3 linked regions of the Homo sapiens genome follow. The protein of the gene in region 1 purifies or fractionates together with the protein of each later gene. This does not show direct contact. Each region holds a gene or a part of one and is shown in the gene's direction. Other genes may lie near its edges.

Region 1 (3,899 bases):
TAAAATATGTTTTCCTGTCTTCAGTCTTATGTTTGGGGGTAGGCTTGTAAGACAGACCAGATAGGAGTCAGTGTCTTTAACAAATGTGAGATGTGTCTTTTCTGAATTCTGGATCAACTCTGCTTTCTGTCACTAAGTTCACACAAAAGTCAGTTTTTGCCTTGTGCAAAGCAGCATTTGCAACACTGTAATCAGATAATACAGCACCTGACCTAAAAATATTGGCCAACCAAACCTTACGGAGTAGAACCCTTAACTCATCACCTCATGTTCCAGCCAAGAAGACAAATTCAATGTTCCCATGGTTTCAGTACATCTCAAGTTCTCCCTTTCAGAAAGTCCCCTTCGACCCTACTTTGTTTTCTTCCTGTTTTTCTACCATGCCCTTGTTTTTTCTTTTGCCCTTTTAGTTACCTCCCTTTCAGAACCAAGACTGAGCTTCTCCCTCAGGAGCAGTATACCTACTAGTTATTTCTAGTCCTAGTTACAAAGAATAGAGCCTGTCCTGCCCAAGGCCCACCATGTAACAGGTGCTCTAAGGAAGGGGTCACCAACCCCCAGAAGCTGTCCGTGGCCTGTTAGGAACCAGGCCATGCAGCAGGAGGTGAGCAGTGGGCCAGCGAGCCAGGGAAGTTTCATACGTATTTACAGCCACTCCCCATGGCTCGCGTTACCACCTGAGCTCTGCCTCCTGTCAGATCAGCAGCAGCGTTAGATTCTCACAGCAGCGCGAACCCTATTGTGAACTGCACATGCAAAGGATTTAGGTTGTGCAATGTAATGCTTGATGATCTGTCACTGTCTCCCATCACCCCCAGAGGGGGACCGTCTAGTTGCAGGAAAACAAGCCCAGGGCTCCCAGTGATTCTACATTATGGTGAGTTGTATAATTATTATATATTACAATGTAATAATAATAGAAATAAAGTGCACAATAAATGTAATGCACTTGAATTATCCCGAAACCATCTCTGCCTGCCTCCCCGCACCATGATCCATGGAAAAATTGTCTTCCACAAAACCAGTCCCTGGTGCCAGAAACGCTGGAGACCACTGCTCTAAGGCACAGTCCCCAGACTTCACTTATTGGGAAGATCGGCCGCAGTGTAGAATTTCTCACATTGCTTGGGATTTTTCAGTAGGACCTTTGTCTCTACACAATAACAGAGAATACTGTCAACATATCTGGTATGAAAATTAGTGAAGAGAAAAATCATAAATTTGATTTGAATACGTAAGAACATTATTAATTTTAGCCACTTAAACGCGAGCCATTTGCTTTTTGCTTTTTAGGCCTAATCACTTTGGAACATAAGCACATAATTAAAAATATATGCAGGTAACCTTGTTGTAAATTGACTTGATTTTAGCAGTATGCTATTTATTTCTGCCCAGCTTTCATAACTTACTCATTTTGCATGAAACTGTTTATATCTTTAAAAAAAATTAGAACATACTAATAACCAGGTGCTTGTGAGTACAGCCATGTAATATTTGAATTGTTTTGCTTATCTTATTCTGTATTTCTCTGAAACTGTTTTCTGTTTACCTCTTGCTAAATGTCAAAGTGAGATACTTTTTGTAAATCTCTTACCAGAAAAACTAAAAGTCCAAGATAGATTAAAAAGATAAGGGAACTGCTGAAGCTGATAGAGTCAGTCCATGATCGTTGAAAAATTGCTTTCTTCCATCTGGTTTCTAATCATTTTCAAACACTCAGTTGCTGTAGACCTATAAAAGACTCGTTTTACCTTTTAAGGAACACAGCTGCTTTCAGAATGAGATTGGAAACTGTGGACCCTAGATCCAGTAGAATGCACTTTTGCGCACACCCTAAACAGTCTGACATTTGATTTCAGAAAGTTAATAGCCCCAAAGAAGTCCTTGGAGCCCAGATTAAGAACTCTTGTCTTACGTGACTTTTGACTTTAAGACCAGCTAACTGCTTATTTAAATACCTGCATATCCCATAAGCCCTTCAAACCTAAGCGAAGTGTGTGTTCTTTCATGCCCCTGTTCTCTTCCCCCATCACACACACAGCAAAACTGGAACATCTTTGTTCATTTGCTTCATTAATAGAAGCCATTTATGTGGCCTTTCAGGCCAAAAACAGTCAGGCTTTCCTCTACTGCCCTCTCACACAGCCAGTCAGCCATTAAGACTTAAGCTTATTTCAAAAATGCCTCCTAAATCTGGTGCTCACATCTACTTTATTCAACAGGAGTCCAAGCCCCCACTCTCTCTTTGAATAAACTAAACTAGTATCTTTCTAGCTGGTTTCCTGTCACCTATTTTCTGCACTGATGTCAGAGTTGTCTTTCTAATAAGTCTGTTTGAAAGACAGCCATGTCATCCTATTCTTAAAGAATTCTGTTATTCCTCCAGTGCCAGTGTGGTAAAGTTCAAAACATTTAGCCTAACAGTATGCCTTTTTAGCCTTTTTTCTCAAAACTTCCTGCTGCATTTGCTGTTCTCTTTCCTTGAGAGCTCTGTCTTCCCACAAAATCTTAGATGTCATCTCTGTGAAGCATTTTTTAGCTACCCCAAGTAAAGTTAATTGTTCCCTCTTCTGTGGTTCTACAATGTTCTGTTCCTCAATTACGGTATCTACCATAAGATTATAATCTTTTGTTCACATTCTGCCCCTCCCATAGTCTGTGAGCTGACTGCTGGGAGAGTCCATGTCATAGTCATCTTTGCTTTTATAGGACTTGAACTGTGCCTGGCAGATAATAGGTAATCAGAAAATGCTTTTGTATGAATAAATGTAGTATTTTACCAGCTCACTTTAGAATTTGGTTTGTCATTCTGACAAACCTAAAAGTTGTATGGAACATATTTTTTAATGAAGGGAGATAATCCTATTTTGAAATGCAAATACCAAGTAAATAGACTTTGGAATTTGTAGTGTAAAAGCCAAAATTACTTTTTCAGTTCCTTTATTGTTAATAACAGAATTAAAATGTGATTTCCTTTCATTCTAGTACTGGCGTCAGGTGTACTTGATCACAGTGCTTGCTATGATCCTGGCAGTGTTCTTTGCGCAGATTCATCCCAATTACCTCACGCAGCAATGGCAAAGGCTCCGTTCTATCATCTTTTGTTCTGTTTCGGGATATGGAGTGATTCCTACTCTTCACTGGGTTTGGCTCAATGGAGGAATTGGTGCTCCTATTGTACAGGTAGGTTGAGTGTAGTTAATATTTTTCTCTTTTTTTTTTTCCTTTCAATTTTATTCCTTTTGGGTAAAGTAGTATAATCAGGCCAAGTGGGTAGATGTTTGTCATTTGAGAACATATTTGTAATTGCATGTTGATGCCGTAATTTTCACAGCCATATAAATAAGCATACCTTGCAGAAGTCGAGGTAAAATCTGAATACTGATTTTCTCTGAGTTGTCTTTCTGTAAAAAAAAATACATTATTATTCTCTATTACCCTTAGTATATAAATACCCAAGTCCTTATTTGTGGAGGAGGACTCCAAAGTTTCTAGCTTTGTCTGCGGGATCAGTGATAATGCCAATGATAACGCAAGTATAGAAATAGGAGCAGTTGATCTTTTAGGGGGTGAAGGGAGGTTGGGAAGGATTTTTTTTGTTGGACCCGATGAGTGTGGGGTACCCATTGGATGTAAAGGTAGAGATAGGATCTGGGATTTCAGCCAGAGTTTGAGACTGGCAATAAAGATTTGGAAATCATCATTGTATTGGTAGCTGGAGCCAGGGAAGCATGTTCAATCCACCAAGGAGAATATATTGAGAAATAAAAGAAGAGCTATTTGTTAGAATCAGGTATTATGGGGGAACAGTTGATGTGCATTAGGAAGAGTCTCAGTGAGAACTCAGGATTCTTGAGAAAAGGATTAGAAATAAGACTTACATTTTTAGAGATCATTAC
Region 2 (3,899 bases), on another chromosome or scaffold:
GAAATGATGCTATTGATAGACTGTTCACATTAGGTCTAGCATTATATGAATTTATATGTTCATGTGAACAAGATCCACCCGTCTTGGAGATGTTAACGTAAGAGCACTTGAGAGTTTCTTTCTTATGCATAATCCAGACAAATTTTTTTGGTACAGAGTGTTAATTTTTGTTAAGAGACATATTCTGTCTTTATCACAGTGGTATGTATAACAACTAATCCTGTCCAGTATGGTCCAGGTTATTTATTAGATTAATGATTTGGAATCCTGCTTAACTCTAAATCCATTTTAAGTTTACCTGTGTTTCATGGCAAATGTGGTTGATAAGTTGAAAGTGTAACTTTAAATTTTTGGTGTAACTTGATTTTGTTCGTTCCCAGGTGGTGATCAGGGAAGTGGCTTTGGGACCACAGGTAAAGCTCCTGTTGGTTCTGTGGTTTCAGTTCCCAGTCAGTCAAGTGCATCTTCAGACAAGTATGCAGCTCTGGCAGAACTAGACAGCGTTTTCAGTTCTGCAGCCACCTCCAGTAATGCGTATACTTCCACAAGTAATGCTAGCAGGTACCTTGTCTTAGCTAGCCCTCCTGCTTTGTGTTTTATCTTTTTTTTCCAACTTTGAATAATCAATTAAAAAATGACTGTTTCAAGGTATAATTTTAAAATTCTTGGATATTTTTGTAAATTTGAGGAATTTGAATTTAAATGCTAATTAAAATATAATCCTTGAATAATTGCCATAATTTTATCTTTTCATTGAATCAGACGTTTTGTTATGTTCTGTCCTTGAACACTAAACCGTATTTGAGAGCATGTACACATCTCAAAATGGACAGTTCCTTACAGATTGTACTCAGCAGAGAATCCATTTAGTAGTCAAATAATATACTTTAAAAATAGTTTTTAGTCATGATGATTAAACAGTGAAAGTCCCATATTATAGGCTTAGTTGTAAATACAGATTTTTAGAAGTGTTTGCACCAAAGCCCAAAATCAATTCTGTATCTCTTCAGTGTCATCCTCATATTTACAAATAAGCACATCTGCTGTTATGTTCATATATATCTGTTAGAATTCTTGGCAGTAGGAAGTCTAACACATTTTAGGACATTACACTTGTAAAAAACTTTTCTAGTCTTTATTTTAGAGTTGCGGAAATAGTCTCAGAAATACAAGAGATTTACCTATAACAATGTTTTATTCATCTCTGTTTTCCAATCCTGTGGATTGTATTTACTAATTTCTTTAGTTATCCTGGTAGCTTATTTTCCTTTAGCATCTTTTCTAGAAAGAAATGTTAGGATTGTAACACTTCCGGAAACATAAAGTCTGGAAACATACTTTATATATAATACATGATTTATTGATATTACATTACAGTACATCAGGGGTTCACAAACTGTGGTCCATGGAATGTTTGGGGTACCTGAGACCCTTTCATGGGGTCTGTGAGGTTAAAACTTTCTTTATAATAATTCTGAGAGATTGTTTACCTTTTCATTAATTGATATTTGCATTGATGGTGTGAAAACAATGGCAAGTAAAACTTGCTGGTGTCTTTTTATTTTTTTTTAATACTTTAAGTTCTAGGGTACATGTGCACAACGTGCAGGTTTGTTACATAGGTATACATGTGCCATGTTGGTTTGCTGCACCCATCAACTCATCATTTACATTAGGTATTTCTCCTAATGCTATCCCTCCCCCAGCCCCCCACCCCCGACAGGCCCCCAAGTGTGATGTTTCCCACCCTGTGTCCATGTGTTGTTCTTGTTGTTCAACTCACACCTATGAGTGAAAACATGCAGTGTTTGGTTTTCTGTCCTTGTGATATAGTTTGCTTAGAATAATGGTTTTTGCTGGTGTTTTAACATGAATATTAAGATAGTGGCACCAAACTGTACTAGTCGTTACAATAGTCATATTCCTTCCCACTACACATTCAGTTTTACTTGTATTTTTTATTTTTTTATGATGATTCTTAATGAAGCAGTAACAATTGTTTATTTTATTACATCTTTACACTTAAATGTCTTAATTTTCTTTGTGTTGATACTGATGCTGTGATACACGATATGTTCATTATTTTATGGCTACCCTGTAAATCGTTACTTTCTTTTTTTTTTAAGAAAAAAAATGAACTCTTTCAATATTTGTTCTCAGCAATGTTTTTGGAACAGTGCCAGTGGTTGCTTCTGCACAGACACAGCCTGCTTCATCAAGTGTGCCTGCTCCATTTGGAGGTATGTGCTTCTGGTATATACACTGGTTTTTACAAAGAACCCAAATATATATTGTGTAGCATTTTCTTAGGAGTCAAAGCAATGATTTGTTATCAGAATCCTTGAGTTTTCTGTCTTGATAAATATAGTGAAATAATTTAAATCTTAAATACAAAATGTATTAGGATTTTATAGTGTATTTTATAATTTTTTAAAGCTACGCCTTCCACAAATCCATTTGTTGCTGCTGCTGGTCCTTCTGTGGCATCTTCTACAAACCCATTTCAGACCAATGCCAGAGGAGCAACAGGTAAGAAAAAGAGACAGTGGAACAGTAAGTTTTGGGGAAGACATTTATCAACAAAGACACCATGTGAAGAACACCAGAAAATGGGGCCTCTTTCTTAGTGAAGTGAATGGCAATGGATAGAAGAGTTTGTCCATAAAGACAAATTCTAGCTGAAAGTTCATAAAATCCTGGAATTTAACAGTTGAGAGGGACCTTAGAAATTATCTAGTGTCTGCCCTTTCCAGTTAAAGCTTTCATTTTTCAGGTAGGGAAGCCCAGACATGGAGATGAGACTCCACAGAACGTTTATGACAGAGATAGGACTTGAACAGAGCAATTTAGATGTATTTGGTGGTCTGGTTTCAGAATTACTGGTTGTCACTCATGCAGTCTTAATGGAACCATTTTATGAGAAGTTTTTATTTTCCCTATGAGATTGCATCAGATGACTTTACTACATGAATTCTTAATTATTAGGTCTTTTTCTAGTGAATATCTCTTTCAGGTGTTAACATTTTTTAAGTTGTGGAAACTTGATTCAGTCGTGGGTATAATACTGAATATTTTCTCTTTTGATAATTTTTTCCCTTAATTCTCTTTGTTGTCTCCATTTTATTTTTTGATTCATACTGTAAGCCATTCACATCTTTCTCATGTTATACCTCTGATTTTTGTCGTATTACCTTAAACACCAGAGATATTTGCCAGTATCTTGGAATGTCAGCAGGTGCATTTGGTATGGCTGGGTATCCATTAAATCTAGAGTTTGTATGCTTTGTTTTTGTGTATATGTCACAATAATTTAGAACTAAAGCCTAAACTCCAGTTATAGCAAATGTTGATATGAACTCTTGAGAGATTAGGTACTTGTAACATTTTAATCAAACCATTAAGAATTACTAGTTTTTAGTAAATCTCTTTGTCATTGACAAGATTAAGAATCACAGTATTAGGAGTTTGAGCTGTAACTATTTTCTTTTCACATAAATGTCTTCACTTATACTCTGTTGGTAAGTAGCATAATAGATGTTTGATAAGTATTGGAATTTCACACAAAATTTAACTTTAAAAAAAGTTTAATTCAAGTGTACCTAATGAATGATTGTTTTAAATTTCCATTTGTACAATTTATCAGGTGTGTGATATGTGCAGTGTTTCTGTTTCTTAGCATACTGTTTTGATTTTGTGGACTGAGTTTGTAAAATGTCTCATGATACAATGGGTTTTTGTACATTGCCTCATTTAATCCACTCAGCTGTCATCAAATAAATATTTTAATTGTGTGACAGCTGAGGGAACAGGCCCAGAAAAGTTAATTGAACATATTTTGAGTACAGCCAGCCAAACTTGTGTTCGAATTCTGATTTATAGTTACTTGCAGGTTGACCATA
Region 3 (3,899 bases), on another chromosome or scaffold:
TGCCAGAGGAGTATTCTTGTCTTGACACTGCTCACATGGCTAGAGTACAGTCAGCTAGAAAAGTAAAAAATCAAAGTTTACTAACATATATGTAGGAGGTCACATCATTGGCATTTCTTTAAAAAATTCTAATTATTATGATCTTGCACATATCTATTTTAGGTTACATTTAAGATTTCACTATACAGTTTTAGGTGAATTAACATGTCATTTCATCTTAGAATATTTGCTTATTAAGTTGAAAATAATTTACATTAAAAGTTTAGTCTGTTTTATAGAATATGGTCTCTATGTTAGTAATGTAACTTAGTTGTAAATATTTTCAAGATAGTATAAAATGTTAGGTTAGAAAACAACTGATTTGCGGATATGTGGAGTTGTCTACAAGCTCTCACCCGAGTGCCTATGTCAGTCTGTAGTACCATAGGAAGTGTACTTTTTTCTTATAAATTGTACAGTGTTTGATTTTAGAAAAAATCATACACTGATTTTTTGCAGTGCAGACCACGAGGTCAAGACATCAAAGCCATCCTGGCCAACATGGTGAAACCCTGTCTCTACTAAAAATACAAAAAATTAGCTGGGCGTGGTGGTGCGCACCTGTAGTCTCAGCTACTCAGGAGGCTGAGGCAGGAGAATCGCTTGAACTTGGGAGGCAGAGGTTGCAGTGAGCCGACATAGTGCCGCTGCACTCCAGCCTGACGACAGAGTGAGACTCCATCTCAAATAAATAAATAAATAAATAAATTTATATATATATTTAAAGCCATTATATTATAGCTTATAGTATTTATGTAATTTGGAGCTAAGTTATTTGAGAGATTATAAAAGAATGCACACAAAAAAGATTTAGATTATTCACTAAATTTCTACTTTTTTTTTTAAAGATATGGTGTCTTGCCATCTTGCCCAAGCTGGTCTTGAACTTCTGGGGTCAAGTGATCCTTCCACCTCAGCCTCCCAAAGTGTTGGGAGTATAGGCGTGAGCTGCCATGCCTGGCTGACAATTTCTACATTTTTAATCGCATGAGTAATGTGATTTAGAATTCCTGGATCATGTTAAGGACAGTAATTAGTCTTTTTAGTAAGTCAGAGAATAATCAATGAATATATTTAAAAGTAACTTTTTTACTTATACATACTATGTACACATTCAAATATGCCAGATCAATATATTTAATATTAATTTTCTTTCACTGCTGTGACAAGCTCAGTGACTTAAACAACACAAATTTATTATCTTAGGGTTCTTTAGTTCTGTATCTTGCCGTTCAGAAGCCAAAAATGGGTCTGACTGGCTAAAATCAGCATTGGGAGAGCTGCATTCCAGAGACCCTAGGGAATATTCCCTTTCTTTGCTTTTTTCAGTGTCTGTAGGCTTTCTGCATTCTTTGGCTGAAGGTGTCTTCCTCCATGTTCAGAACCACCATCAAATCATCATTCTGATCTTGTTTCCATTGACACTCCTTCTCTGACTTTTGCCTTCCTCTTTCACTTTTCAGGACTCTTGTAATTATATTGGGCCTACCTGGGTAATCCAGGATAATTTCCTGTTTTAATATTAGCTGATTAGCAGCCTTAATTCTATCTACAGTTCACCGTTGACATGTAACCAAACATTCAGATTCCAGGGATTAAGATTGGGGCATCTTTGGGGGCCATTATTCTACCTACCATAAATATCAACTAAAGAATAAAGACTACTCCTTATCCTTTGGGTTGTTAAAACACAAACTTTGTGATTCAGCCACGTATCCGATAAAAATATAGAATAGAGTGGAAGCAAAATTTGAAAAATTAACCAGCCATATGAATATTATTAAACTTTATAACACCTAATCAGAATGAAGTGGGATTACTGAGAAAAATAATCTTTATTTAATTTTAGGGGTTTTTTTTGCCATTGTCATTTAATTTCTTAACTAGTATAATTATTACATTATGATGTTAACTTAAAAACACGATTGCATCACAAATTTCATTGTATTTTTCTTTTTGCTAATTTTTTAAAAACTAGAACTACCCCCATCCCCCCCCTTTTTTTTTTTGAGACAGAGTCTTGCTGTATCGCCCAGGCTGGAGTGCAGTGGAGCGATCATGGCTCACTGCAACCTCTGCTTCCCGGGTTCAAGCGATTCTTCTGCCTCAGCCTCCCAAGTAGCTGGGATTACAGGCGCACGCCATCACGCCCAGCTAATTTTTGTATTTTTAGTAGAGATGGGGTTTCACCATGTTGGCTAGGCTGGTCTCAATCTCCTGACGTGGTGGTCCTCCCACCTCAGCCTCCCAAAGTGCTAGGATTACAGATGTGAGCCACCGCACCCAGCCAAGAAACCCTTTTAACCTCAAGTATACTGTGATTAATTAAAGTATACCAAGTGTATACACATTGGAATCTTGGCTTAGGACTAAGTAGTACAGTACCCTTATAGAAGACAAAATTAAATGTACATGTTTCTGAATAATAATTGGAATTTCCCGAAATTCAGACTGTTTTTTTCATTAAGTAGACAGTTTTCTTAGGGCACTACACTGTCAATAATGTTTATGTATTTTGTAGTCATATATAAATTAGTTTTAAGAGTCAGTCAGAGCATAGTGTCAGTAAGTTCCAGATTTAGTGTGTAGTTAGCTTCATCTAAATTTCTGATGACAGCTCTGACCCTTTGAACAACATCTCTGTATAAAGAGAATTTATTAAAACAGTGTGGTTTGGTTCATGCAAATTACTAACATTCAGTGCTGTTTAAGTAGATGACTTTTATTTTCTACAATGGTTGGTAGTTAACAGCAGCAACAACAAAGACTGTGTAGAGCAAGCTTGTCCAACCTGCGGCCCCTAGGCCACATGGAGCCCAGGACAGCTTTGAATCTGGCCCAACACAGATAAGTAAACTTTCTTAAAATATTATGAGAGTTTTTGGAATTTTTTTAGCTCATCAGCTATCGTTAGTGTTATATTTATTGTTAGTGTTTCATATTTAGTCACTACCAGAGTAAGTTTTCTAATTTTTTATTTCCCATGATTTCAATAAATCATTTTTTATGATAGCATTATGCTTATTTCTACTTTGTTTCCATCTAGGTTCTTCCTAATTTCTGCTGTTTCATTGTAGGTCATTTCTGTATCTAATTTCATTTGCTTATATATAAAAGTGTTTAAGTTTCTTTGAATTATTGTCATCTGACTTGGGAAGACCTATTTTATTGTGTCTTTTTTCCTTTATAATCTTTGAAGTTGAAGAAATACTTGAACAAGCAGACTACCTGTATGAAAGCGGAGAAACAGAAAAACTTTATCAGTTGCTAACCCAATACAAGGAAAGGTAAGCAATGTAGGATAGGCCTAGGCTTGTGGTTTCCTCAAAATTTTTGTTATTTAACAATTAAAATGACCCTTAGTGCTTGAGGTTTTAAAAATTGATTATTGTAGTTTTTACTTCAAAATATTTCTTAGAGTTTAATTTATAATATACTATTTGTTTCTTACGTTAAATGCTGCATGTATCTCATTGATTTAGAAAAGGTGTTACTACTTTAGTGGAATGTTGAAATTTTTTTTGATTTTTCCATTTTGCTTTAGATGATACAAGATAGTTATTGAATATATGTTTATCCCTTCTAGCTATATTGTATATTTCTCATTGTTTTTCTTTTAAAGTAACTTTTTATTGGTATAGATTAAATGAATTCACTGAGATGTAGGATGTTGCATGCCACCATTGAGTGGTAACTGTGTATTACTTTAGAAGGATAGTCTTTCAGAGAAACCAAAAATACCCCCTTTTTCTATTTTTATTATTAGATTGTATGTTTAGTGTAGAATATCAGTGTGTACTCATTTTTGGGAGGAGTGTGGAGCGAGAGAAAGACTCAACCCTATGAAGTAAGTCATATGG

Evidence for each region.
Region 2: the proteins of PAQR3 (region 1) and AGFG1 purify together in Homo sapiens (affinity purification with mass spectrometry; one large-scale study listed by BioGRID and IntAct). This does not show direct contact.
Region 3: the proteins of PAQR3 (region 1) and RMDN1 purify together in Homo sapiens (affinity purification with mass spectrometry; one large-scale study listed by BioGRID and IntAct). This does not show direct contact.

Annotation. Positions count from the first base shown.
Region 1 is NC_000004.12:78,925,805-78,929,703, reverse strand, and holds part of PAQR3 (progestin and adipoQ receptor family member 3), read left to right. Parts: intron 1-2,985; coding exon 2,986-3,183; intron 3,184-3,899. UniProt on the Homo sapiens protein: Golgi-scaffold protein which modulates its interactors acitivies by anchoring them to the Golgi apparatus. Functions as a spatial regulator of RAF1 kinase by sequestrating it to the Golgi apparatus.
Region 2 is NC_000002.12:227,534,465-227,538,363, forward strand, and holds part of AGFG1 (arf-GAP domain and FG repeat-containing protein 1), read left to right. Parts: intron 1-380; coding exon 381-561; intron 562-2,160; coding exon 2,161-2,240; intron 2,241-2,436; coding exon 2,437-2,529; intron 2,530-3,899. UniProt on the Homo sapiens protein: Required for vesicle docking or fusion during acrosome biogenesis. May play a role in RNA trafficking or localization.
Region 3 is NC_000008.11:86,487,979-86,491,877, reverse strand, and holds part of RMDN1 (regulator of microtubule dynamics protein 1), read left to right. Parts: intron 1-3,238; coding exon 3,239-3,326; intron 3,327-3,899.